Linked DNA regions of Homo sapiens. The protein of the gene in region 1 interacts with the protein of each later gene in a pairwise test. Each region holds a gene or a part of one and is shown on either strand. Other genes may lie near its edges.

What was found.
Region 2: the proteins of CLSTN1 (region 1) and SLK interact in a two-hybrid assay, tested with the Homo sapiens proteins (one study listed by BioGRID and IntAct).
Region 3: the proteins of CLSTN1 (region 1) and MCM3AP interact in a two-hybrid assay, tested with the Homo sapiens proteins (one study listed by BioGRID and IntAct).
Region 4: the proteins of CLSTN1 (region 1) and RNF10 interact in binary tests that used the Homo sapiens proteins (3 or more experiments, as listed by UniProt).

What each region holds. Positions count from the first base shown.
Region 1 is NC_000001.11:9,743,954-9,750,981, reverse strand, and holds part of CLSTN1 (calsyntenin-1 isoform 1 precursor), read left to right. Parts: intron 1-1,068; coding exon 1,069-1,218; intron 1,219-1,335; coding exon 1,336-1,521; intron 1,522-6,338; coding exon 6,339-6,587; intron 6,588-6,976; coding exon 6,977-7,028. UniProt on the Homo sapiens protein: Postsynaptic adhesion molecule that binds to presynaptic neurexins to mediate both excitatory and inhibitory synapse formation.
Region 2 is NC_000010.11:104,019,118-104,026,145, reverse strand, and holds part of SLK (STE20-like serine/threonine-protein kinase), read right to left. Parts: intron 6,413-7,028; coding exon 6,224-6,412; intron 5,659-6,223; coding exon 5,533-5,658; intron 4,527-5,532; coding exon 4,413-4,526; intron 573-4,412; coding exon 426-572; 3' UTR 1-425. UniProt on the Homo sapiens protein: Mediates apoptosis and actin stress fiber dissolution.
Region 3 is NC_000021.9:46,234,605-46,240,611, reverse strand, and holds the end of MCM3AP (germinal-center associated nuclear protein), read left to right. Parts: intron 1-3,632; coding exon 3,633-3,783; intron 3,784-4,285; exon of another isoform or gene 4,286-4,388; intron 4,389-5,185; coding exon 5,186-5,344; 3' UTR 5,345-5,479; downstream 5,480-6,007.
Region 4 is NC_000012.12:120,529,894-120,537,356, reverse strand, and holds the start of RNF10 (E3 ubiquitin-protein ligase RNF10), read right to left. Parts: upstream 3,002-7,463; 5' UTR 2,661-3,001; coding exon of another isoform or gene 2,546-2,660; coding exon 2,389-2,545; intron 1-2,388. Other genes in the region: uncharacterized LOC128071547, read right to left, coding at 2,400-2,660. UniProt on the Homo sapiens protein: E3 ubiquitin-protein ligase that catalyzes monoubiquitination of 40S ribosomal proteins RPS2/us5 and RPS3/us3 in response to ribosome stalling.

The DNA.
Region 1 (7,028 bases):
GTGATTCTCCTACCTTAGCCTCTCGAGTAGCTGGGATTACAGGTGCCCACCACCACGCCCAGCTAATTTTTTGTTGTTGTTGTTTGTATTTTTAGTAGAGATAGGGTTTCACCATGTTGGCCAGACTGGTCTTGAACTCCTGACCTCAGGTGATCCGCCCACCTTGGCCTCCCAAAGTGCTGGGATTACATGTGTGAGCCACCGCGCCTGGCCATGTTCTCCATTAAGTTAGAATCTCCTGTGACATCTTTTTTTTTTTTTTTTTTGTTTGAGGGAAGGTCTTGCTCTGTCGCCCAGGCTGGAATGTAGTGGTGCAGTCACTGCTCACTGTAACCTCGAACTCCTGGGCTCACGGGATCCTCCCGCCACAGCCTCGCTAGTAGCTGGGACTGCAGGCACACACCTGTAGTCCCAGCTATTTGGGAGGCTGAAGTGGGAGAATCGCTTGAACCCAGGAGGCAGAGGTTGCAGTGAGCCGAGATCAGGCCACTGCACTCCAGCCTGGGCAAGAGAACGAGACCCTGTTCCAAAAAGAAAAAAAAAGATAATACAGTGTTTCCATTGTTAATCAATGCACGGTCTAGAATCTTTGATGGAATTATGGACATTGCAAACACTTTCCAGAGATCTATACTCACCACGTTCAAAAAGCAGGCTTCTGTTCTAAGCAGGTGGGGGTAGGAAATCTCTCTTTCTTTTAATATAGTAAATGTTTGATCAGCGATCTTATATTTAATATTTGAGGTACTTGAATTATTATTATTTTTTAATCCTCTGAATGTATGTAAACAGTTAAATCTTAATGTAAAGCCCAATGTAACACTGTGAGAGTAAGTGGAGACTGAGCTGTGTAGCTCCGTCTCTTCTGTTGAAACTCTTCAGGATGGATTTAGTGCGTGTTAGGGCTCAGGGAGGACAGGTTGAGGGTTAAGCATCCCAAGCATATGTTTATTTCTGGCTGAGTATTTACAGGGCTTAAAGCCTATGCATTTTGTCTTTCCGCCTAGGACAACAAAAGTAAAACCAGCATGGGTTTTGGCTCTCACTGTTGTTTTTGCCCTCTGTAAGGTTATATAAAAAACACAGAGAAATTAAACTACGGGAAAGAACATCAATATAAGCTGACCGTCACTGCCTATGACTGTGGGAAGAAAAGAGCCACAGAAGATGTTTTGGTGAAGATCAGCATTAAGCCCACCTGCACCCCTGGGTGGCAAGGTGAGCTTCATTCTCTCCCCTGCGCTCACATCTGCTCTTAAAACTGATGTATGCGGCAGCAACCTAGAGTGTGTGTTTTCCTTCTCTCTTCCCCTGCTGACTTGTGGACCAACACAGGATGGAACAACAGGATTGAGTATGAGCCGGGCACCGGCGCGTTGGCCGTCTTTCCAAATATCCACCTGGAGACATGTGACGAGCCAGTCGCCTCAGTACAGGCCACAGTGGAGCTAGAAACCAGCCACATAGGGAAAGGCTGCGACCGAGACACCTACTCAGAGAAGTCCCTCCACCGGCTCTGTGGTAAGGAGACCAGGCGTTCTTGCATCCGGCTGGCTTTGGTGAAGGTGGGAGGGACCTTTACAACTGGAAATACTTGTGTGTGTTGTGTTCATAATTATAAACTGTGACAGAGAATCTGCATTTCTGAAGTGAACTTTGCTGCCTTGCTGGCTAGTTTTCATACTGGATGGGCTTCGGGGGTGGGGCAGGGGGTGGACATCAACTCCTAAACGTCTATTCAACATGTTGTGTATATGTGCATTTTAAGAACCACTGGTGGCCAGATGTGGTGGCTTATACCTGTAATTCCAGCACTTTAGGAGGCCGAGGTGGGAAGATCACTTGAGCCCAGGAGTTTGAGACCAGCCTGGGCAACACAGCGATACCCCATCTCTACAAAAAATTGAAAAATTAACTGGGGATGGTGGCATGGACCTGTAGTTCCAGTTACTTGGGAGGCTGAGCGGGAGGATCACCTGAGCCCGGGAGGTTGAGGCTGCAGTGAGCCGTGATGGCACCATTGCACTCCACCCTGGGCAATAGAGTGAGACCCTGTTTTAAAAAAAGAACCACTGATTTGAAGGAAGTATTTCTCCAGCATACTCTGAGAATCATCCAAAAAGGGCTTCTATAGGAGTACATGGAGTGAGTTTTACATGAAATGAGATGTTTACTTACGAATTGAAGACAAAGGCCAGGGCATGGGGGCTCATGCCTATAATCTTACCACTTTGGGAGGCCGAGGTGGGCAGATCACCTGAGGTCAGGAGTTCGAGACCAGCCTGACCAACATGGAGAAAACCCTGTCTCTACAAAAAAAACAAAAACTAGCCGGGCATGGCGGTGCACGCCTGTAGTCCCAACTACTTGGGGGGCTGAGGGAGGAGGATCGCTTGAGCCCAGGAGGTGGACGTTGCAGTGAGCCAAGATCACGCCGCTGCATTCCAGCCTGGATGACAGAGTGAGAACCTGTCTCAAAAAGAACTGAAGGAAAAATATAGGTAATACAATAGCTTTTGACAAACATGAAGTAGAAAATCAGAACTAAAGATAGCCACATCTAACTTAGAATCTCAATAGATTTTCTATATCACAATATTGTGTGGAGAAATTGAGAGACAGAATTACTGGGAAACCCACCAGAAGGCTAGGTCTCTCTTTACTGTCAGCTGCGGATATTTTTCTGGTTTATCTAAATGAAGAAGAGGTGAGGTATGGATGGCTGTCATGGAAGATGTTGAGGGAAGAACATTTAGTTGACTGGTGATAAAATCCCACTAAATGAAGCAGCGTCTTCATAAATTGGAAGGGTCTTTTGTGTTTCAAAAAGCTTTTGTGAAACAGCTTTTCAGGGAGCATTTTCTTAAACTGATGAGTCTTTTCACTAGCCTGATAACAACCATGAGATTTAGGTTACTGGTTTTCTTTTTTTTTTTTTTAGACAGAGTCTCACTCTGTCACCCAGGCTGGAGTGCAGTGGCGCCATCTCGGCTCACTGCAAGCTCCGCCTCCTGGGTTCACACCATTCTCCCGCCTCAGCCTCCCGAGTAGCTGGGACTACAGGCACCTGCCACCATGCCCGGCTAATTTTTTTGTATTTTTAGTAGAAACGGGGTTTCACCGTGTTAGCCAGGATGGTCTCGATCTCCTGACCTCGTGATCCGCCCACCTCGGCCTCCCAAAGTGCTGATTGCAGGCATGAGCCACCGCGCCCGGCCACTGGTTTATAATTGAAAATTATCCAGATCACTTGAGGTCAGGGGTCTAAGACCAGCCTGATCAACATGATGAAACCCCCGCTCTACTAAAAATAAAAAATTAGCCAGGCGTGGTGCGAGGTGCCTATACTCCCAGCTACTTGGGAGGCTGAGGCAGGAGAATTGCTTGAACCCAGGAGGCTGCAGTGAGCCAAGAGTGTGCCACTACTCTCCAGCCTAGGTGACAAAGCTAGACTTTGTCTTAGAAAAAAAACAATAAATAAGAAGAAAATTATCATGTGGTAAATAAACCAAAGTAGAAAACTAGACATTATGCTGCCACAGTCCAATGATGAGCATATGGGGGTGTTTGGCAACTCTGAATCCAAATATTCATAATTGTCACCTAAATATATTTAAGTAAGGAGGTCTGGCACATTTTCTGTTTTAAACCATGCATGTAAGTATAATATATAAAATTTATTCCGTCTCTCATTTCATGGTATTAAGTGAATTTTTTTTCAGCAGAATAAAGTTAGGAAGAATAGAAATAATTTGAGTGCTTACTATGCACCAGGTACTTTTTTTTTTTTTTTTTTTTTTTTTTTGAGACAGTCTCCCTCTGTCGCCCAGGCTGGAGTGCAGTGGCGCAATCTCACTCACTGCAACGTCTGCCTCCTGGGTTCAAGCGATTCTCCTGCCTCGGCCTCCCAAGTAGCTGGGATTACAGGCATGTGCCATGATGCCTGGCTACTTTTTGTATGTTTAGTAGAGATGGGATTTCACCATGTTGGCGAGGCTCGTCTCCAACTCCTGACCTCAAGTGATCCACCCACCTCGGCCTCCCAAAGTGCTGGGATTATATGCATGAGCCACTGCGCCTGGCCTTACTCCAGGTACTTCTATGTGTGTTTTAGCTTAATGTTCCCAACAAGTCTACGAAGTAGGTGGGTATTGACCTTGTTACAGAGGAATTAAACAATTGAGACTAAAGCAGGTTAAGTAGCTTGCCCAAGCCCACATATTCAGGAGCTGAGGTTCTAGTGTGTGTGTGTGGTTTTTTTTTTTCTTTTGAGACAGAGTCTCACTGTCGCCCAGGCTGGAATGCAATCGTGCTATCTTGGCTCACTGCAGCCTCCACTTCCTGTGTTTAAGTGATTCTCCCACCTCAGCCTCCCAAGTAGCTGAGATTACAGGCATCTGCCATCATGCCTGGCTCATTTTTGTATTTTTGTAGAGACAGAGTTTCACCATATTGGCCAGGCTGGTTTGAACTCTTGACCTCAGTTGATCTGCCTGCCTCAGCCTCTCAAAGTTCTGGGATTACAGGCGCAAGCCACCACGTCTAGCTTCAGGAGCTAAGATTTGGACCAAGGTCTTCTGTTACTCAAGAGGCCAGGCTGGTCCAGCCAAGGCCTGCTGCTCCGAGTAATAGCTTAGTCAAGAAGGAGCTTGCAAAATCTTTTCCTGTGGACAAAAAAAAATTTTTTTAATTTGAACATGGCAATACATAAGAATGGTTGGAAAACATTTTTTATGTTTTTTGACTTAGTAATTTCATTTCTAGGAATTTATTTTAAGGGAATAATCATGGAGACACATAAAGCTGTGCATGCAGGTGAGGTTTATAATAGGAAAAGGTTAGGGACAGCCTCTGTGCCCACCTGGGAGGCTGGTCAGTAGGTGATGCTGTATCTGTACAATGAAATGCTATTCAGGCCGAGCGCGGTGGCTCACACCTATAATCCCAGCACTTTGGGAGTCTGAGGCAGATGGATCGCTTGAGCCCAGTAGTTGGAGACTAGCTTGGACAACATGGCGAAACCCCGTCTCTACAAAAACACAAAAATTAGCCGGGCATGGTGGCACACACCTGTGGTCCCAGCTACTTGGGAGGCTGAGGTGGGAGGATTGCTTGAGCTCAGGAGGTCAAGGCTGCGGTAAACCAACGCTGCACCACTGCACTGCAGCCTGGGCGAGAGAGGAGACCCTGTCTCAAAAAAAAAAAAAAAAAAAAAACAACTATTCAGATAGTTTAAATTACATGATAGAAGAATATTGCTAGGAATATATATGTATTATGCACATACATAGCAGGACTCCACTTTTATTGTATTTGTTTATATATTTTTGAGACAGGGTCGCACTCGCCCAGGCTGGAGTATAGTGGCACAGTCACAGCTCACTGCAGCCTCAACCTCCTGGGCTCAAGTGATCCTCCCATCTCAGCCTCCCAAGTAGCTGGGACTACAGGGATGCACCACCACACCTGGCTAATTTTTGTGTTTTTTGTATTGACAGGGTTTTGCCATGTTGTCCAGGCTGGTCTCCAACTCCTGGGCTCAAGCAATCTGTGTGCCTTGGCCTCCCAAAGTGCTGGGATTACAGGTGTGAGCCACCAAGCCCTGCCAGGACTCCATTTTTCTAAGAAAACGCATCATTTTTGTGTATATTTACCAAAGGAGGACTGGGTGTTTATACTAAAATGGTATAATTTGAATCAGATTACAAGAAATGCTTCCTTTCCCTTCCTTTTTGTTTTTTTTTTTTTTTTTTGAGACGGAGTCTCGCTCTGTTGCCCAGGCTGGAGTGCAGGGGTGCGATCTCGGCTCACTGCAAGCTCCGCTTCCCGGGTTCACGCCTGGCCCTTTCCCTTCCTTAAACAAATCCATGGTTGTTATTTTTATTTTTGTAATTTAAAACCCTGATTTTTGAAGAGAAGTAAACTGAAAGGGCCAAGCGTGGTGGCTCACGCCTGTAATCCCAGCACTTTTGGAGGCCGAGTCAGGCGGATCACGAGGTCAGGAGTTCCAGGCCAGCCTGGCCAACATGGTGAAACTCCGGCTCTCCTGAAAATGCAAAAATTAGCCAGTTTTAATGGGGCGCGCCTGTAATCCCAGCTACTCGGGAGGCTGAGGCAGGAGAACAGCTTGAACCCGGGAGGTGGAGGTTGCAATGAACCGAGATCGCGCCACTGTACTCCAGCCTGGGGACAAAGCAAGACTCTGTCTCGAAAGAAAAAAAAAAAGTAAACTGGAGCCAGCAGATTGCCTAAGTGTAAGACAAGCACGTGCCTGGGGGCTTGAGGTGCGCGGGACCTCTGGCTCCTCACATGAGTTTCACCGAGCACTGTGGCTTCAGGTGCGGCCGCGGGCACTGCCGAGCTGCTGCCATCCCCGAGTGGATCCCTCAACTGGACCATGGGCCTGCCCACCGACAATGGCCACGACAGCGACCAGGTGTTTGAGTTCAACGGCACCCAGGCAGTGAGGATCCCGGATGGCGTCGTGTCGGTCAGCCCCAAAGAGCCGTTCACCATCTCGGTGTGGATGAGACATGGGCCATTCGGCAGGAAGAAGGAGACAATTCTTTGCAGTTCTGATAAAACAGGTAGGGTAATAGCTCTGCAAGCGATGCCAGGCCCCAGTGTCCAGTAGGGTGGGTGCCAGCGGCAGGCTCCCTCTCCTTTCCCAGGGTCCCCTGCCAGCCTGGTGCTCGTAGGCCATGTGCCATGCTGTGTGCCTGGGGCACTTGGTTCCCTAGAGCCACGGCCTGGGCATTTGGGTATTAGCTGTTGTTGCTCAGTGGGGTCCACGGTGATCACAGGCTCCGCCTCTCAGGAAAGCCCAAGTGTATTTGTTTCTAAGCCCTGCCTTGGCTTAGCCGAAGAGTTCATTTATGCAGATGAAATTGTGTCTTCAAAATCCATTCAAGAAACAGCTTTAATTTCTCCTTTGGATCTTTAGTTGGCAATTTACCCATAGAAACTGCCTTTGCAGATATGAATCGGCACCACTACTCCCTCTATGTCCACGGGTGCCGGCTGATCTT
Region 2 (7,028 bases), on another chromosome or scaffold:
AAATTATCCCAACTCTCTGCAGCAGAGCTTCAACTACAGAATTTAGGCATTGAGAAGTTACGTCAGGTAAGAAGAATTTATTAATACTTAGTGATGTAACAGTTTTTCTTAAATAACTTTAAACATTATTTCTCCAACAGTTTTCAGGTAGCAGTGTCTAAAGAACATAATTTTTAAGATGAATATACAAAGTCACCTTAGTCACCAAGATGCTACTTTGCCAACATGGCCTAGCGTCTGTCTTAGTTCGTTTTCCCTTCATCTTTGCTTAAAAACAAAACAAAACAAAAAAAACAAAAAAGGAAAACACCTAGAAGGTGAGGCAGGTGATTGTCTTCATGAGCTATCTGAGAGACTGTGGCAGAAGATGAGAACAGAATGACATACTGAAAGAGCCAAACCCACGCACAGAATGCTTCCCTTTGTTATGATCCGGTGGAATGCAAGCTGGGAATAGGATAAAATTTGGAAATCCGGCTCTGTGTTGATGGGTTAAGGCATTCAGACTCCCCAGTCATTTTAAAGAATACTTCCTGTTCCTGTAGTTTCCTGGCAAACTCTTCTTCCAGTGTCTTAAAAAGAAAGGGAAAAAGAAATTGCTATGTGCTGGTATTATATATAGAATTTATGCTGACAGCCAAGATAAAACTACTTGTCCAAAACACTTTCTTTGTATATAATCCTCAAGAAGACACGCCTGCTCAATTTTTTAAGATCATAAGCTTTGTACAGCCCTATGTGCAAGTCCAGCTCAGCCACATAAATGGACAATTTGGGTCCATTACTTAACTTCCCTATATTAGAGAACCATTTAATTCCTCAATTCCTCTGCTGTAAAAATAGGGATAATTTGCTATGTGAAGTATAAATGTGATAATGATGTACTTACACATACTATGCACTCTAATATATGGTACCTATTATTAACTATTATGTGTTTCTCCCACATGGCACTTACCCCTGCCTACTTGTTATTTTAGTTACGATGCGCCTGTATTTTCTTTCACACTAGACTATAATATAAGCTGTTTAAAGGTACAACTTAAATCAGAATCATTTTTATCCCCATAATACAGAGCAAAAATAAGTGCTTGAGAAATGTAAGAGGCACCATTGTGATGTGAATGTCTGTGCCCCCCAAATCCATATAAAAACCTAATCCCTAATGTGCGGATACTATGCATAGAAGGTGGGACCTCTGAGAAGGGATGAGGTCATGAGGTAGAGCCCTCCAAATGGGATGAGTGCCTTCATGAGGGGCTAAAGAGAGTTGTTATTCCGCCCTGTGAGGACACGGTGAGAAGTCGGCAGTCTGTAACCCAAATGAGGGCCCTCATCAAAGCGTGACCGTGTTGGCACCCTGGTCTCAGACTCCCCAGCCTCCAGTTTATGGCATTTTGTTACAGGTATCAATGACTTTGTGGAGAAGTGATTCAGGGATAAGTGGTGCTGTAGAGGTACAAAGCACAGGAAAAGAAGGAAGGATATAGGAGGGGTTCTCAAAAGAGGTGAAACATGAGCTTAGTGCTGAAGGAAAGATAAGAATTTGATAGGGAGCATAGGGAAGGCATGCCAGAAACAGAGCCGAAACACAGCACAAAGGCAGGAAGCCGAGGAGCTGGTATGAGGAGTGGCCATTATACCCAAGGCTGGAACCTGGACTGGGAACAAAGTGGCTAGTGGGAGAGGAAGCTAGAAAGGGTGACTGTGACTCAGGTGTGGCACTATGAAGGCTTCACAGTCAAACTGAGGCATTAATTTACATTTTACTCTGATGGAACTGAAGATTTCTCAACATCAGTATGACAGTGTCAAGAGATGTCCTTGAGGATAAATCCTCCGGTGATGGCAGGCGAGTGGGAAGAAAGGAAAGGGAACTAGAAATTAGAAGGCCCATTAGGAAATTCCTGAATAATTTAAACAAGCACCAGGATAGCAGTGAGAAAGAAAGGAGACACATTATGAAAAAGAGTCCAAATTAATTGGCGCCTGATTGAATGTAGGGTGTGACAGAAATGAAAAATAATTCTGGTTTCTAGCGTAGATGTCAGTTAAGAGAACAGGAATGCAGAAAAGAACATCTGATGGTGAGTGGCCTGCAGTGAGCGCGGAAACGTGAGATGGAGATGAAGGAACATCTGGCAGTGAGTGGGCCTGCAGTGAGTGGGGAAAGGTGAGATGGAGATGAAGGAAAAGGATGCTGAGTTTGGTTTTCTCTCTACTGAGTTTATACTCTTTAGTCAACACTGAACAGGTATGTAGTCATCTGTACAATGTGCCAGGAACTGTTCTAGAAACTGGGTACATATCAATAAATGAAGCGATCATGGCATGCTTTTAAGGAGTTTATATTCTCACTCGCAAGAGGGGACAATAAACAAATGTGTCTGGTGGTGATGAATTGTTACAAAGAAAAACAAAGAAAGGAGAGCAGATACAGAATGTTTGGGGTTCAGTATAGGTGCTACTGAGATACAGTGACCAAAAAAGGTCACAAGGCCTAGGTGAAATGAGGAGGAGCATAACACCCAGATGGAAAATGGGCGCTTACTGCCCAAACTGATAATAAAAACAAGAAACAATAATAGCAACAGCAACCATTCACTGAACCATTACTATAGCTCAGGTACTAGATAACTGCTATATAAACAACACCAAATAGGTAGTATCACTCTCATTTTACAAATTAGGAAAACTAGGCCTAGAAATGGTAAGTGAGAAAATTAATCAGTAAGTGTCAGTACTGAGATCTGAACACACACCTGTATGACTTTACAATTCATGCTCTATACAACTGCTACCATTTAAGTTTTGGAGTTGTCTATCTGCAACAGTTGAAGCCATGACTAGCAATAAAATCATCAAGGTAAAGACTGTTCTTTACTACAGGGGCAAAACTGAGAAATGTCTACATTTCAGGAGACAAAAGGGGATAAAGAACACAGAGAATGAGCAGAGCTGTGTCACAAAAGCCAGGTGAGAGGAGAATTTTAAGAAACAAGACTTTTAAGGAGAACAGTTAGATAAGGCCATAGGATTTGACTATTAGCAACTCACTTGTGACCACTGTCAACTAGTTCAACTAGGGTGTTTGAAGCAGATGCTAGGCTGCAAGTAGGTAAAGGAGATTTTACACCGTTTACAATTCTGTACCTTTTGAATTCTAAACTACATGAATGCATTACCTATTCAAAAAGTTTAACAATAAAGAAAATTTAAATTAAAAAGCCACACTATGGGCCGGGCATGGTGGCTCACGCCTATAATCCCAGCACTTCGAGAGGCCCAAGTGGGTGGATCACCTAAGGTTTGGAGTTTGAGACCAGCCTGGCCAACATGGCGAAGCCCCGTCTCTACTGAAAATACAAAAATTAGCCAGGTGTGGTGGTGGATGCCTGTAATCCCAGCTACCTGGGGGGCTGAGGCAGAGGAATTGCTTGAACCCAGGAGGCGGAGGTTGCAGTGAGCCGAGATCGCACCATTGCACTCCAGCCTGGGCGACAGAGTGAGACTCTGTCTAAACAAACAAACAAAAAGCCACACTATGAACTCATTTAGTCATTTCACTTCCTTTGGCACATAGCTAAATACATATTTCCTTGACTGATTGTATGGATGGAAGAAAGGAATGGTGGAAATGTACAGTAGGCAGGAAGCTCCCCCCAAAACAAAGGTTTAAGTTTGAGTAACGAAGGGTCAGAGATCATATAGTGATAGCAAAAACTCAGGTGAAATGGTTAGCCAGTAAGACCAGGTGAATAGGGTGTCAAGCACAAACAAGGGAAAGGGGTGAGACAGAGAAGACACCATCCCTATTTTACCAGATTTCAAGTTTACGTAGAATAACAGGGCCTTTTAATATGGCTCCAGTTGACCTGTTCAGACTCAGCTGTCATCGCTTCCTTCCTTCCTTCCTTTTCTTCCTCCCTAATGACTACACACTGGCACACACCCCCTCTCATACTCCAATGTCAGAGAACGATCTACAATTCTCTGTACGCTTCCTTTTCACTCATTCTCTTCTCCCTACTCAAATCATCCCATTCCACTCCAATCAGCCCATCCGCTTAGCAAGTTCTTACTCACCCTTCAAGACTCACTTGGCTTGCAAGGCATCTCCTCTTGAAGACCCTCCCTGACTTACCCAGGCAGATTTAAGCTCTCCTCCTCCTCTGCTTACAAAATCTGTTCCTTTCCCTTGTATCCTGTACTCACCTCCTTCAGAGCAATGACCCTACCAATTCCTAACTGCTTGTCACTAGATTCCAAAACTTCTGGGGACAAAAACTTTGTCTTTTCATCTCTATGTTTCCTGCCCCTGACACTGTACCTGACACAGTAGGTAAAGAGCCAATAGCTGGGTAGACGGACGAGTACACACATATCATTTTAATTAAAGCTTTTAAAATTACCTTTTTCCTAGGTCTCAATTTCTCTCTCCACTCCTTTAATTCTTGGCTATGTTCCTCATCTAACTCCTTCAGTTTCTGAGTCTCATGCTCAACCAACAAGTGGCATTTTTCATTCTGAAAATAAAGTTGGGATTTAAAAAAATTTCAGATCAACTAAGCAATTTTTCACAAATACAATTATCTTCCATAATAATAAATTACTCATCAAATATCATGCTATTACTGAGATTCAAGTTTTCCTCTATAAAAACCAAGGGCCATGAATTAGGAAATGAATCATAGCTTCATTTTTACAAGTTTAGAAGCTAGAACTATTACATACCATATAAAAAGAACTTAAAAAGAACTAGCTTGAGCTTTTGTTTTTCCTTTCTAAGAAGATTTGCTCATAAAACTGACACTTCAGAAGGCAGCCTGCATACATTTTACCCGTGAGTACAGAATGTGGGATCTGGTACTAAAGGGTTGGCCTAATAGATCTATTCCTGTAAAAGATCTATTGGCCCATTAGGCCAATCTATTAGGATCTGTTCTACTATAGTAAATTAAGCAAATATATAGATACCCACATTTATACACTACTCTGAAATCTTAAACATTTTAGATGGGCTGTACATTCTATGTAAGGTCCTAAATCAGCCCTCTCTCGAATAACTTTTAAATTTCCTAGGAGAAAAATTCCCATATATTTAACTTATCACTTATTTCAAAAACCTAGAAGAAAATAAACTATTTCCCTCTAAATGGAAAAGAAATTTTAAATTTAGAATCTGACAAAAAATTCAGAATATGACAACAAAACTGTCTACATCATTTTGAAACTCTCCACATCTTCTTGCAAAATATACTAAAAACCATACTCAATACTGCTTTTGAAAGACTCAATTTCGTAGGTTACAATTTAGCTTTATGTTTACATTAATCATGGTTATATATAATCTACACAAGTGCCTATGATACCAAACTGATCTTCATTTGGATCTGTACAAAAAACAGAACCTCTCAAACCCAGCATGTTCGTGTATGATGCAGTTGACTTTGGCTAGCTACTGTTCTCTCAAAAGCAGCCACTTGTGCTGCCGCATCCTATGGGCTTTGCTGTCAGGCTTCTGTATCTGACCTGCAGCTGATGCAGTTCGCGGACATTGGCTTCACACTGCAACTGAAGATCTCGCATTTGATTCTCATGTTTCTGATGCTGAGCCATTCTCTCATTTTTCTGCCTCTTTTCTTCTTGTGCAGCAAACTATAAATAAGAAAAAAAGATAAACTATAGTTCAGAAGCATGTGATTTCTATATATTCTGAAGATATAAAGGAATTTAACAAAACAAGGCACAATAAACTGAAGCTACAAGTAATAATATGCTGAGACTCAAACCTGGAGTCCACATCACAGCTTCAGAGAAGAGCAGGAACTTCTGATTAAAACCTTGATCCTCCTATCTGCTTAGTGATCTGAGTTAATTTGTGTGTGTGACCATGACTACAGAAGTATCACAGTGAGGCCATATATCTTGACTTGAAAAGTTGTCCGAGTCATCTCATTCCCAGGGCTGGTCTTAGGACCAGTCTAGCTCAGGAGCTGGTATGGGGTATAGGAGGAAGGGCTTTGCTCTCTGTGACCACCATCCTGGGGAAGACTAATTGGTATATGCCATGTATCTATAGTCCCAGCCCACAGAATTAAAGTGAACATCAACAAGCCTAAGGTGGCTCTAATTGTTTAGAAAGAAAGGAATTTTGTAGAACTTCTAATGGTCATTCAAAAATTTTAAACCTAAAAGAGAAGAGACTAACTTGCATATTTACCTGTTTAATTTTATCACGGTCCTGATCTGGTGTGGCTGTTGAGTTAATTCTCAAACTCTTCTTAAACATGGCCATTCGAGTCTTGGCTTCACTGCGCTGAATCTTGGGCAGTCTTGCTCTTTCTTGAGTCTGTCTGTTTTTCAATTCCTCAATAAGTCTTTGATTGTAACGCTGCATTTGCTCTGTTTCCTATGAAAGTTTTAAATAGAATCCAGTGACGCAGAAACAATAGTCAGTACCCACATGCATATTCAAATATGTCATTTTGTTATTGTTGTTTCCTATAATTACCCTCTCCCTTGTTGCAGTGACCAGCAAAATACTAGGCACAAAATAACTTGTAAGAAGTTAGGCTAGGTCTGGTGGCTGACACCTGTAATCCCAGCACTTTGGGAGGCTGACATAGGAGGATCACTTGAGCCTAGGAGTTTGAGACCAGCCTGTGAAACATAGTGAGACCCTGTCTCCACACACAAAATTTTTTTTTTTAATTAGCAGGGTGTGGTGGTGCATGAATGTACTTGGGAGGCTGAGGTAGGAGGATCCCTTGAACCCAGGAGTTCGAGGTTAAGTGAGCTATGACTGAGTGCCACTGCACTCCAGCCCAGGTGACAGAGCGAGACTCTGTCTCAAAAGAATAAAAAGAAAAGAAAGTTATTAGTGATGAGAGTTTTATACTGCAACTCTTAATAAGTACAAGGAGTCCATACTTTAAGATACTTGAACCACAAATAGAGCCAAAATAGCTACCTTTGAGAGCCGAGATGAAGATTACAAGGTGTAAAACGTCTTTAAGCATTGTAAT
Region 3 (6,007 bases), on another chromosome or scaffold:
TATATTGAAGTGAATTTCATTTATTATTTATTATTGAAAGTCAGTGTTAAGTTTTTCTGGGAAATTCATGTGGTTAAGTCTGCTCAGAAGATGGTGAGTGCTGAACACTATGGCTGGCCACAGGCACCCTGCCCTTGGGAGCCTGAGGCATTGGTGGATCATCCCATGCTGTGAATGGACAGGAGCTGGGGCTGCCCCTCCTCTACATTGCCCACTTCCCTCCCTCCCATGCATACCTTTCCTTTGCTTTCATTTGATGGCCATGTTTACCATTTTACTGAGTAGAATCAGGAATAAGGGACCTTCCACAGGTTGTCCTCTGCCTTCCCTGCCCTCCCAGCCACATCCAGCATCCTCCCTATATCCCCTTCCTGACGCCTCTTGTTGCTGGAAACGAACCATGCAGCTCGTAGTCAGTCAGCCCTTCCCTGGGCTGGGATCTCATCTCCCACCTACCCAAGGACATTCATTCAATGAGTATCTCTCTCGTGCTACCACCCCTCCCCATATTAGGTGGTGCCCATCAGCAGCACACAGACATGAAACATGCCTCCCTGTCTTGGTCCCACTTCCCTCTTTAGCCACCACTTCATGTTTCTGCCCTCTTAATGGTAAAACTCCTCAAAAACGCTTGTGATACTCACTTCTTCAGCCTTCTTTCCCATGGGGATGAAGGCCCAGGGTTGAACATGACCGTGAATCCCAGTCCTTGGTAGCATCCCATACTTGATCCTCCCCTCCTTGCTCCTAGGATGTCCGTGGTCCCCCTCCTGCCCTGCTGGTTCCTCCTCATCCCCCAGCTGCCCCCTGGATTCATTCTCTCAACCTCTCCTCTGCATCGTCTGTACCTACTCCTCAGAAATTTCATCCAGTTTCATGGATTTTTAAGTAACATCACTATTCTGACAGCTCCAAATTTGTATCTCAAACCTCTGAACTCCACACTTGAACATGCTACTGCTTCCTTGAAATCTTCATTAGACACCTATTGGATGTCTGGTAGCCACTGCAAAGTTAACATATCCCAAATCCAGTTCCCGGCTTTCTTCCAACCAACCCCTTCCTTTGGTGGTCATCTCTGTTGATGGCGGCTCCATCCTTCCAGCTGCCTAGATCAGGTGCCTTGGAATCATCCCCTCACATCAGCCCATTCACATATCCTATTGGCTCTATTGAAAATACATTCAGAATTGGACCACTTGTTATGACTTCCATGGCCACCACGTGGCTCAAGCCACTATCATCTTCCTTCTGGATTATTACAGTAGGCTGCAGTTTAGTCTTGGTAGACCTGGTGGGTGCCTTTCAAGTGAGTTAAGATGGAGGTCGTGTCACTTGCTTGCTTACAGCCTCTCAGTGGTTTCCCTCTTTCACCTGCAATCAAAGGCAAACTTTGCAGGGGTGGCCAGGGCCCTGAGTGATCTGCCCCCCATTTCCTCTCTGACCTCCGCTCCTTCCTTGAGCATGGTAGGCAGTTCACAGTTGGGCCTCTGAGTTTGCTGTTCCTTTTGCCTAGGACTGTCCAGCCCCTCCATTCTCCCCAGCATCCCCATGGCTGATCTTGTACTCACTTCAGATCTCTACTCAAATGTCTGCTTCTGTTAGGCCCTGCTTGCCCATCTCCGACCTTCTTGTTTCCATGGCTCTGCTTTGTCTTTCTCATCTTCAAACCATGTTTCTCTTGTTATGTGTTCCTTGTCTGTCTCTCCTCACTAAAGTATAAATTGCTTAGGGCAGGGCCTCTGTTTTGTTTCAGTGCAATATTCCTTGTACCTAGAATGATGCCTAGCATCTGGAGGAGGCTTAATGAATATGTTTTGGAAGGGTGAATGAATGTGTCCGATTACTAAAATCAGTCTCTATAATTTAAGTGGTTTGGGATGAGATTTTTTTTTCCTTTTTATTAGATAGAGTCTCGCTCTGTTGCCCAGGCTAGAGTGCAGTGGCACAATCTCGACTCACTGCAACCTCCACCTCCCAGGTTCAAGCAGTTCTCCTGCCCCAGCCTCCCAAGTAGCTGGGACTACAGGTACCCATCACCATGCCTGGCTGATTTTTGTATTTTTAGTAGAGACGCAGTTTCACCATGTTGGCCAGGCTGGTCTTGAACTCCTGACCTCAGGTGATCCACCTGCCTTGGCCTCCCAAAGTGCTGGGATTACAGGCATGAGCCACTGCACCTGGCCAAGATTGTTTTTCTTGAAAAGACCGGTATATGGAAGTAGACAGCTCTAGAGTATGTTAGGTGGCAGTGGGATATTATTTTGAGTTAATTTTAAGCTATAAGCAGCAATCCACTCATTTGGAAAATGTCAGAAGAATTAATTATAGATGCATAAAACCAAAGTAAATTAAATAAGATAAGCCAAACAAGACAATTACAAGTAATGTTAAGTAACACATCGAAGCAGTTGTTTTTGGATTAATACCACCTTTTTCATTAAATATAAATTGGAATTGGATTTATAAATTAAAGGGAAGTGGTTTCTCTAATTTTTTTTTTTTTTTTTTTGAGATGGAGTTTTGCTCTTGTTGCCCTGGCTGGAGTGCAATGGCGTGATCTGGCTCACTGCAACCTCCGCCTCCCGGGTTCAGGCAGTTCTCCTGCCTCAGCCTCCCAAGTAGCTGGGATTACAGGCACGTGTCACCATGCCTGGCTAATTTTTGTATTTTTAGTAGAGACGGGGTTTCACCATGTTGATCAGGCTGATCTTGAACTCCTGACCTCAGGTGATCTGCCCGCCTCGGCCTCCCAAAGTGTTGGGATTACAGGCATGAGCCACCGAGCCCAGCCTAGTTTTTTTTTTTAAATTAAGCTTTATCATAGGAAGTTGTTAAATTTTTAATAAGTACATTTCTGCTTCTCAGTTGATGTCATAACTTAGTTATATTCTTAGTAAAAAGCAAAGGCTTAAGGCTGGGTGTGGTGACTCATGCCTATAATCCCAGCACTTTGGGAGGCTGAGGTGTGCACATCACTTGAGTTCAGGAGTTGTAGACTAGCCTGACAATACAGCAAAATCCCGTTTCTACAAAAAAATACAAAAATTAGCTGGGTGGCATGCGCCTCTAGTCCCAGGTATTTGGGAGGCTGAGGTGAGATCATTTGAGCTTGGGAGGTCAAGGTTGCAGTGAGCCAAGATTGTAACACTGCACTCCGGCCTGGCCAACAGAGCGAGACCTTGTCAAAAAAAAATAATAATAAAATTGGCCAAGCACAGTGGCTCACTCCTGTAATCCCAGCACTTTGGGAGGCCGAGGTGGGTGGATCACCTGAGGTCAGGAGTTCAAGACCAGCTTGGGCAATATGGTGAAACCCCATCTCTACTAAAAGTACAAAAAATTAGCTGGGCACAGTGGCACTTGCCTATAATCCCAGCTACTCAGGAGGCTGACGCAGGAGAATCACTTGAACCTGGGAGGCAGAGGTTGCACTGACCCGAGATTATGCCACTGCACTCCAGCCTGGGCAACAGAGTGAGACTCTGTCTCAAAAAAAAAAAAAAAAAAATTATATAAAATTTTAAAAAAGCAAAGGCTTAAAAAGTTTTTAAGTATATATAGAAGATTAATGAACAATAGTTAACTTCCTAATGCTCAAATATTTTTGAATTTATTACATATTGTTTCAGGTTTGAAGATCAGCTTCAGCAATGGTTGTCTGAAGACTCAGGAGCATTTACGGATTTAACTTCCCTTCCCCTCTATCTTCCTCAGACTCTAGTGTCTCTTTCTCACACTATTGAACCTGTGATGAAAACATCTGTAACTACTAGCCCACAGGTGAGAAGAACGTATACATTTGGCATTTACATAAGAATTAAAGATTGAGAGAATGGCTGGGGAAAAAAGTAATATCACGATTTATCCTATGATGTTTTGATGACCGACAAATTATTAGCTCAAATTAGACCTTTTCTTAAACTTTATCCATATCATTGTTAAAGAGACCCAACTGATTTTGAGTTTCTGCCTACGAAATAAATGAAGAATAGAATTGAAATATTCTTAAGAACTGAATAAGACCTGTAACTGTGTGCTGATGTGTAATTAAGGGCATTAAGGTGATGACAGCAGCTTCTGTTGGAGCACATATTGTCTGAGCTTTGGCATTACCCAGACCTCTCTTCTGGGATTAATTTTTCCTGAGGAAAACTAATGAATGAGGAAGGTAAGCTCCCAGAAGTCAAGAGCCTCACCCAAGAGTGTTCAAGTAGTGAGTGGTCAGGTTGCTTTTCAAAGCCAGATCCAACTGGCTCCAAAGCCTAAGGTCTTTTTACCTTACCATTCTTCCTTCAGTGGTTAAAGATGCAAAAACAGAGTTTCAATCACAGATATGTGCCACTGAACAGGTAAAAACTGTGCTCCTGGACTGGCTTTAGGAAGTCCTTCAATAGAGGAGAAAAGCAAATTAAAATGATGTACTGTTTCCATTCATCAGTTTGGCAAATACTTTAAAAATATTCATACCCTTTGAATTACCAATTCTAACCTAAAGAATTCTGACCTACCAGATATTCCCCAAAAATTAATGTATAAAAATGTTTACTGTAGCATTATTGTATGAAAGTCGAAACAGAATAAATATCCGAAGATGGGAGTCTGATTAAACAATTATAACACATTCATGTGATAGAATAATTCACAGCCCTTGACGATGATATTTTCTAAAAATGACTGGCTGGGCGTGGTGGCTCATGCCTGTAATCCCAGCACTTTGGGAGGCTGATGAGGGAGGATCGCTTAAGTCCAGGAGCTTGAGTCCAGCCTGGGCAACATAAAGAGATCTCATCTCTACAGTACATAATTAGCCAGGCATGGTGCTACATGCCTGTTGTCCCAGCTACTCAGGAGGCTGAGCTGGTAGGATCACTTGAGCCCAGGAGTTTGAGGCTGCAGTAAGCTCCGATCATACCACTGCGTTCCAGCCTGGGTGAAAAATGACTGACACTGGAAATTGTTCATGATAGAATACAAAGGCAAACAGTCTATATACAGATACCAGCTGAATGTACGAGCTAAATGAGGCTGGAAGGATATACAAAGGATAATTTTTTTCCCTCTGTAAAAATAAATGACTACTCAGATGAGGTTTCTAACATGATCCAGATCTAGTACCTTCCCAGAGATAGGTCGTGGTTTATTGACATCCCAAAACTGTTCAGTTTCTTTTTTATTCAAATAGAGTGACATGATGAGGGAGCAACTGCAGCTGTCAGAGGCGACAGGAACGTGTCTAGGCGAACGACTAAAGCACCTGGAAAGGCTGATCCGGAGTTCAAGGGAAGAGGAAGTTGCCTCTGAGCTCCATCTCTCTGCGCTGCTAGACATGGTGGACATTTGAGCAGCCTGACCTGTGGGGAGGGGGTCTCTCCCGAAGAGTTTCTGTTTTTACTCAAAATAATGTTATTCTCAGATGCTTGATGCACTGTTGGAAATGTGATTAATTTAATCATGCAGATAAACCATTTAAATGTCAGTCTCCCAGTTTTTCATAATGAAAAGTTGTTTCCCCTGTGTGACCTCTTCAATATTCTCCTATATTCATGACCTCCTCAGATTGTCACCCACCAGCATATGCTCTGAGGCAGTTTAGAGCTTACATTTCCATGTATAAAAGGCGATTCATTCTCTCAGCAAACTTGCAGTCCTTGATGTGCCAGACATCAGTGATGCAGAGATAAAGTAAGACACAGGGCCTCTGCCTGCTAAGCCCACCCAGCTTACATCCAGGAGAGTCAGGTACTTATGTACATAATTCTCAGAGAATGTGCATGAGGCGTGGGCCTGAATTGGTAGCAAGGAAAAAACAGAGGATGGAACAGGGTCTGGTTGGGTAGAGGAGAAACAGAATTCCCGGAGAGGAGTGCAGGGGTGTAGCTGGAGACAGTGTACTTGAGAGGACATGATGAAAGCGTGGAGGTACCAGCTTGGTTGTGTGGCCAGGTGAGGGGAACAGGCCAGCAGGGTGAGGTCAGAGATTCTTGTCACCTTCTTCTGAGAGCTG
Region 4 (7,463 bases), on another chromosome or scaffold:
CCGCACCCGGCCTACATGAGTTTTTACAGAAGTTTTCTTGTTTTGAGACGGGGTCTCACTCTGCCACCCAGGCTAGAGTGCAGTGGAGTGATCGTGGCTCACTGCAACCTCGAACTTCTGGGTTTAAGTGCTCTTCCTCCTCCCCTGCCTCAGCCTCTTCACAGCTGGGACTACAGGTGCGTGCCACCACGCCCGGCTCATTTATTTTTTTGTAGGACAGGGTCTCGAACTCCTGGGCTCAAGTAATCGGCCTGCCTCAGCCTCCCAAAGTGCTGGGATTATAGCCACCCAGCCCATTTGAAATGTTAACAATGACAAATACTTGCTTTGGTCAAACTACTATAGAATTCTGTATCATCTTGTTGGGTAATCAGAGTTAATTCCACTAACCAACATATTCAAAGTGAAGGACATAGCAGTAAAATTCCTTAAATACCTGTTTGTTTGTTTTATTTTAAGTTGTCACAAGCTTTCACCTACTGCTAAGAAATAAACTTAAGGCATTTATTGCAACTGACTAATGAATGTATGTTAGTGGCTTAAAGAGGAGCCCCAGAAAAATTAGTTGAGAATTCACAGTTGGAGAACCAAATCCTTAACATACATCTGGGAATAGAGTACAAAAATAAACTTACTTATCAATTGCTTTGAACAGACCACTCTAAACCAGTTCCAACACTGACCAAAAGGACTGGTTACCTTCTATCTTTTGAGGGATCTATGGCAAAGCTACGCATGTGCAGAACTGCAAAATCAGTCTGCATACATGCCATTTCCTGACACGGCCCGAGAACCCATACTCCAATGGTCTCACACCAGGTAAACAAGTTTGCCATATCCAGCAGGTGAACTCTGAGCGAGTTAGCAGACCTTACAATTTTCTGTTTTTTTTGTTTGTTTTAAGTCAGCCTTAGTTTTCTTTTTACTGTTTAGAGATGGGGGTCTCTGTTACCCAGGCTGGATGGTATGCAGTATCGTGATATAGCTCACCGCAGCCTCAACTTCCTTGAGCTTAAGCGATCCTCCCACCTTACCCTTCCAAGTAGGTAGGGTTACAGGTGTGTGCCACCACACTCGGCTAATTTTTTTTTTTTCTTATGGAGACGAGGGTCTTACTATCTTGCCCAAGCTGGTGTGAAACTCCTGGGCTCAAGCTATCCTCCCACCTCAGCCTCCCAAAGTGTTCGGATTACAGGCATGAGCCACCGCGCCCGGTCTCACTCTAAACAGTTTTTTTAATCTTGACAAGTTTTAAACTGGACCTCCACATTTAGGGACTTCAAATATTTCCCTCTCTGCCACAACATCCCCACTGTCGCTGAAAACACCTTCCTATTACTGCTAATGTGACTGAAATACAAAAGAGAGCAGAGATTAGTACAAACTTCGAAATAAAATGAAGAACACCGGGACTCTAGCCTCTGCCAACTCCTAACATCCTACCTGCTCAGTTTATTCCTTCTTTAAATATGAACAATTTCACCCTGGTAGACAAGTCAGTGACTGGCACAGTGAAAACAGAGGTAAAAACTTCACCTAGTACTTGGCACATGGTAAGCCCTCAATTAAAGGTAGCTATTATCAACATGGTCATAATATTGACAGACTTGATTACAGAAATAAAACCTTCCCTGTTAAAGGACAATCCTATAGTCCAACACACAACAATAGACATTATGTGTATTTGGCGCAAAATAGACGCCAGATATCCTAAGACCTTAGTTCATTTGTTTTGTTTTTAATTAGTTTTTTAAGTTTATTTAATTATATTACCTCCACCTACCTTTACAAGTAAGTAAACTCGGGGCACTCACTCAAGGTCTGGCAAACTGGGACCCAAAAAGACTGAATTCATAGTCTGCGCTCTTAACCCCACAATGAATAGCCACTGAAGGATGACTTCCTCTTCGACAGAGGAATGGATCTGGGACCAGGTTATTAAATAAGAGATCTGAGTTTGAAAGGTCCTTGGGCCCTCACCCACCCATCTAAACTTGAACACTATCCAATGTTAATTCAACATTAAAGGGTAGAACAACTTAGTGGTTTTAGGAGCGTGGACTGATGAGTCACACAAACCAAGTCTTAAGGCCTGCTGTGAGCCAAATACTAGCTGGGTGACCTTACCCTTTCTCATCATATGCAAAATGGCGATAAGAACAGCACCTGCTTAATCGAGCAGTTTTGAGTATTAATGTAAATGATCCACGTAAACCACGCAGCACAGCGCTCATTAATGTAACTGCAAATGAGAGCCATGGAAAAGGGCAGGTAGGAGCTATAAAAGAAAGTGGAGCCTGTCCCCGAGTAACCCAGCCGATGAGAGCAACGACTCTCCCCAGCAGCAGGGGCAGTCGCCCCCGCCCACTGCCGCAGGCCCGTCCTTACCGCTCTTGGGTTTAGACTCGCCGGCTGGCCCCGCCGAGGCGGAGCGGGGCGGCTGTTGCCCTTTGCTGCTGCCCGAAGAGGCGGAGGAGCTGTTGGAGCCGCTGTTCTTGTCCATGTCGGAGGCGGTGGCGGCGGCGTTGGGGGAGCTCAGCGGCATCAACGGGGGCCTCGGCGGCGACGGCAGTCGGAGCGGAGCGGGCGCGGCGGGGACCCAGGCTCATGGCGTTCAGGGCCGGCGGGGGTCGGCGGCGGCAGCGGTTCTCGGCCTTCATGGCGACATTTTTCCCTGTTTCCTTCCTTGGCTTCTCAAACTAGGAAGAGAAGCGGCGGACGGGGCTGTTAAGCCCGGCGGCAGCGGCGACCGAGGACGAGGAGGCCGGGGCTCGGGAGTCCGGGCCGGGCCTGGCGGGGCGGAGGCTGCGGGGGAAGGGGAGGCGAGGGAGGTTGCGCGAGCCCCGCCGGCCGGCCGGCCGGACACGCTCTCCCGCCGCGAGGCAGGGGAGAGGGCTGGCTGTCTCGGTGTCGGGGACTAGTGTCTCCGACACAGCAACGGATACTCGCCCCTGGGCCGAGGCCGACCTGCTCCGGGAATGGCGACGAGTCGCCAAACAGCATCTCAAAGAACCCGGATGGACTGTATATATAGTGGAGAGGGGGTGAGGTATTCTGGGAAATGTAGTTTTTGCCTACATCCGGGTCTCGTGGTTTGTTTTTTGGTTTTTGTTTGTTTGTTTGTTTTGGTTTTGTTTTTTTTATTTCCTCCCCCACCTCCGCCCCAACCCCACTGTGAGGGCATTCAAAATAATGGGACTTGCAGTTGCTCCAAGTCCAGGTTTTTCACTTAGTACACTAAAAATACAGTAACAATAATAATATACACTGATAATAATGTAGCCAAACATTGGAATACCTGTGGAACTCCTTTATAGACTCGTTTGATTTATGGTTCTTTTTTTTTTTTTTTGAGGCGGAGTCGCTCTGTCGCCCAGGCTAGAGTGCAGTGGCGCGATCTGGGCTGACTGCAAGCTCCGCCTCCCGGGTTCACGCCATTCTCCTGCCTCAGCCTCCCGAGTAGCTGGGACCACAGGCGCCCGCCACCACGCCCGGCTAATTTTCTGTATTTTTAGTAGAGACACGGTTTCACCGTGTTAGCCAGGATGGTCTTGATCTCCTGACCTCGTGATCTGCCCACCTCGGCCTCCCAAAGTGCTGGGATTACAGACGTGAGCCACCGCGCCCGGCCAATTTATGGTTCTTATTCTAGCGTTAATACCAATTGATTTATGGCCTTTAGTCTATCTCATATTAGGAATAATAATAATAACGTTAATAATGACAATACCTTACATTTAATATCACTTTACGGCACTTCTTCATACAGTACATCACTTTATTTCTTTAGCCTGGCGTGGCGGTGCGCACCTGTGGTCCCCATTACCCAGGAGACAGAGGCGGAAACAGGCCATAAGCAGTGTTTCATGCGTGTAATCCCAACACTTTGGGAGGCAGAGGTGGAAGGATCCTTGGAGGCCAGGAGTTCCAGACCAGCCTGGGGAATATAGCGAGACCCCTGTCTCTAAAGAATAAAAATATTTTTTAAAAAATTAGTTGGGCAGCCGGGCGTGGTGGCTCACACCTGTAATTCCAGCCCTTTGGGAGTCTGAGGAGGGGGCAGATCACTTGAGGCCAGGAGTTCAAGACCAGCCTGGCCAACATAGCAAAATCCCGACCCTATTAAAAATACAAAAATTAGCTGGGCTCTGAATAAAATAGTTTGAATAAAACTAACTTTAATTTAAAAGAGAGAAAGAAAAAAAAATTAGCCAAGCATAGTGGCTGTGGCTGCACACCTGTAGTTCTAGCTACTCAGGAAACTGAGGTGGGAGGATCACCTGAGCCCAGCAGTTGGAGGTTGCAGTGAGATACGATCGTGCCAGTGCACTCCAGTATGAGTGACAGAGAGGGAGACCCTGTCTAAACTTTTTTTTAAAAAGTAGAAACAGAGAACAAAAAGCAGATTAGTCATTTCAAAATTACTTTTCTTGTAAAGGTTTAAGCAGAATGGACTTCCTTATGTGGGGTAAAACTGACCAGTTTGGGGATTTGATGATTTCTCAGAAGGTCAGATAAACAATTTCGTTTAGGCGTGGTTGGGTAGAAATTCACCTTGAGTAACTCTGTTTTGGTTTGGTCTACTGTGCTGAAGCTCAGTGCAAAACAATGGGCTCCTATAAATTGTATTTAACAGCTGTTAACATTATCACATTTAATCTTCTCAATAACTAAATTTTAGACTAAGTGTGCCTGTAGTCCCAGCTACTCAGGAGGCTGAGGAGGGATGATCACTTGAGCCCAAGAGTATGAATCCAGCCTGGGTAACACAACAAGACTCTGTCCCTAAATAAATAAAATTTAAAGATGAGTAAATGGACTCCAAAAGTCCAGATAATTTGCCTATTATCACATAGCTAACAAGTGATGTTCTTACCTATGAGACAAGCAGTTCCTCATTTTACAGATACAGACTGAGATTTAGAAAATCATGCATATGGGGCCGGGCACGGTGGCTCACACCTGTAACCCCAGCACTTTGGGAGGCCAAGCCGGGTGGATCAACAGGTCAGGAGATCGAGACCAGCCTGACCAACATAGTGAAACCCCGTCTCTACTAAAAATACAAAAAAATTAGCCAGGCGTGGTGGTGCGCACCTGTAATCTCAGCTACTGAGGAGGCTGAGGCAGGAGAATCACTTGAACCCAGAAGGCACAGGTTGCAGTGAGCCAAGACTGCACCACTGTATTCCAGCCTGGGCAACAGAGCGAGACTCCATCTCAAAAAAAAAAAGAAGAAAGAAAATAATGTATGTGGGTCAGGTGCAATGTAATCCCAGCACTTTTTGGGAGGCCTGTAATCCCAGCACTTTTTGGGAGGCCTGTAATCCCAGCACTTTTTGGGAGTTCGAGGCGGGCAGATCACGAGGTCAGGATTTCGAGACCAGCCTGACCAATACAGTGAAACCCCGTCTCTCCTAAAAATACAACAATTAGCCGGGCGTGGTGGCGCACACCTGTAGTCCCAGCTACTTGGGAGGTTGAGGGAGGACAATCGCTTGAACCTGGGAGGCGGAGGTTGCAGTGAGCTGAGATTGGGCCACTGCACTCCAGCCTGGGTGACAGAGCGAGACTCTGTCTCAAAAAAAAAAAAAAAGAAAAAAAAAGGAAAATCATGTATGTGGCCAGGCAAGGTAGCTCAATCCCAACATTCTGGGAGGCTGAGGCAGGAAGATCACTTGATGTTAGGAGTTTGAGACCAGCCTGAACATAGTGAAACCAATTCTCTACTAAAAATTAAAAAACAAAAAACAAAAACATATGGTTTACAGATATAGACGCTAAGACTTTGGGAATCATACCACACCTATTTGTACTTTGGAAAATTACAAATGATTCCCTTCCAACCATAGTAGTTTGAGATTCAAAAGATCACATAGACATGCTATTAAGGAAATGACCAGGGCCAGGTGCGGTTGCTCACGCCTATAATCCCAGCACTTTGGGAGATTGAGGTAGGCAGATTGCCCAAGCCCAGGAGTTCAAGACCATTCAGGGCAACATGGCAAAACCCTGTCTCAACAAAAAATGCAAAAATCAGCCCAGTGTGGTGGTGCACACCTGTAGTCCCAGCTACTCAGGAGGTTGAGGTGGGAGGATGGCTTGAGCCTGGGAGGGTGAGAAGTGAGCTATGATTGTGCCACTGCACTCCACCCTGGGTGACAAAGTGAGATCCTATTTCAAAATAAAGAATGAATCAATAAATAAGTAAATAAGACCAGCCTAGCCAAAATGGTGAAACCCCATCTCTACTAAAAATACAAAAATTAGCGCCGGGAGTGGTGGCTCAGCACTTTGGGAGGCTGAGGCAGGTGGATTACCTGAAGTCAGGAGTTCAAGACCAGCCTGGCCAATATAGCGAAACCCCATCTCTACTAAAAATACAAAAATTAGCCTGGCATGGTGGCGCATGCCTGTAATCCCAGCTACTAGGGAAGCTGAGGCAGGAGGATCACTTGAACCCAGAAGACAGAGGTTGCAGTGAGCCGAAGTCATGCCACTGCACTCCAGTCTGGGCAACAGAGCAAGACGCTACCTCAAAAAAAAAATACCTTCCAACAGTCCTTGTCCTACTTCACTTTTTACAGGTTTTCCTCCACATATCATATGAAATAAGAGAACAGTGAAATACTGTTGGTCTGGATACTTAATCTGATGTGCAGAAGGAACAGCCCTAAATCCTGAGATCCATTCTTTTATATAACTAGATATGGAAGATATAAGATTCTTTGATGAGACTTTATTTATTTATTTATTTATTTATTTATTTATTTTTGAGATGGAGTCTGGCTCTGTCACCCAGGCTTGAGTGCAGTGGTGCAATCTCAGCTCACTGCAACCAGTGACTCCTGGGTTGAAGGGATTCTCCTGCTTCAACCTCCTGAATAGCTGGGACTACAGGTGTGCACCACCATGCCTGGCTGATTTTTGTATTTTAGTAGAGACGGGGTTTCACCATGTTAGCCATGCTGGTCTCGAACTCCTGACCTCATGCAATCCGCCCACCTCGGGCTCCCAAAGTGTTGGGATTACAGGCGTGAGCCACCGCACCCAGCCACTTAATTTCTTTTAACAAAGACATGAGAATTATGAATACATGGATGAATCATTTCGCCCTTGTATCCTTCCTTTTTTTTTTCTCATCACTATACCAACGAGGACCTTCTATCATTCTTAAAATAAAAGAGAAAGAAACAGAAATCCCAGCGCAGTACTTCCCAAACGAAAGCGGTTAGGTGTCCATCTGTCAGGCTATATTAAACCAGGAAGAGAATTTTCATTTCAAAACAGTTTCTTCTATTGGCGCTTTCTCCTCGTGAAATATTTACAGGAAACATACATTTAAAATGGAATGAAAGCAGAAACATACAGTAATCCAAGCAAAACTCAACAACGTCCGTTCTTTATTTTGCACAAGACGGTCTGCATTACCCTTGCCATTAAAAAAAGACTGAAAATCTGGG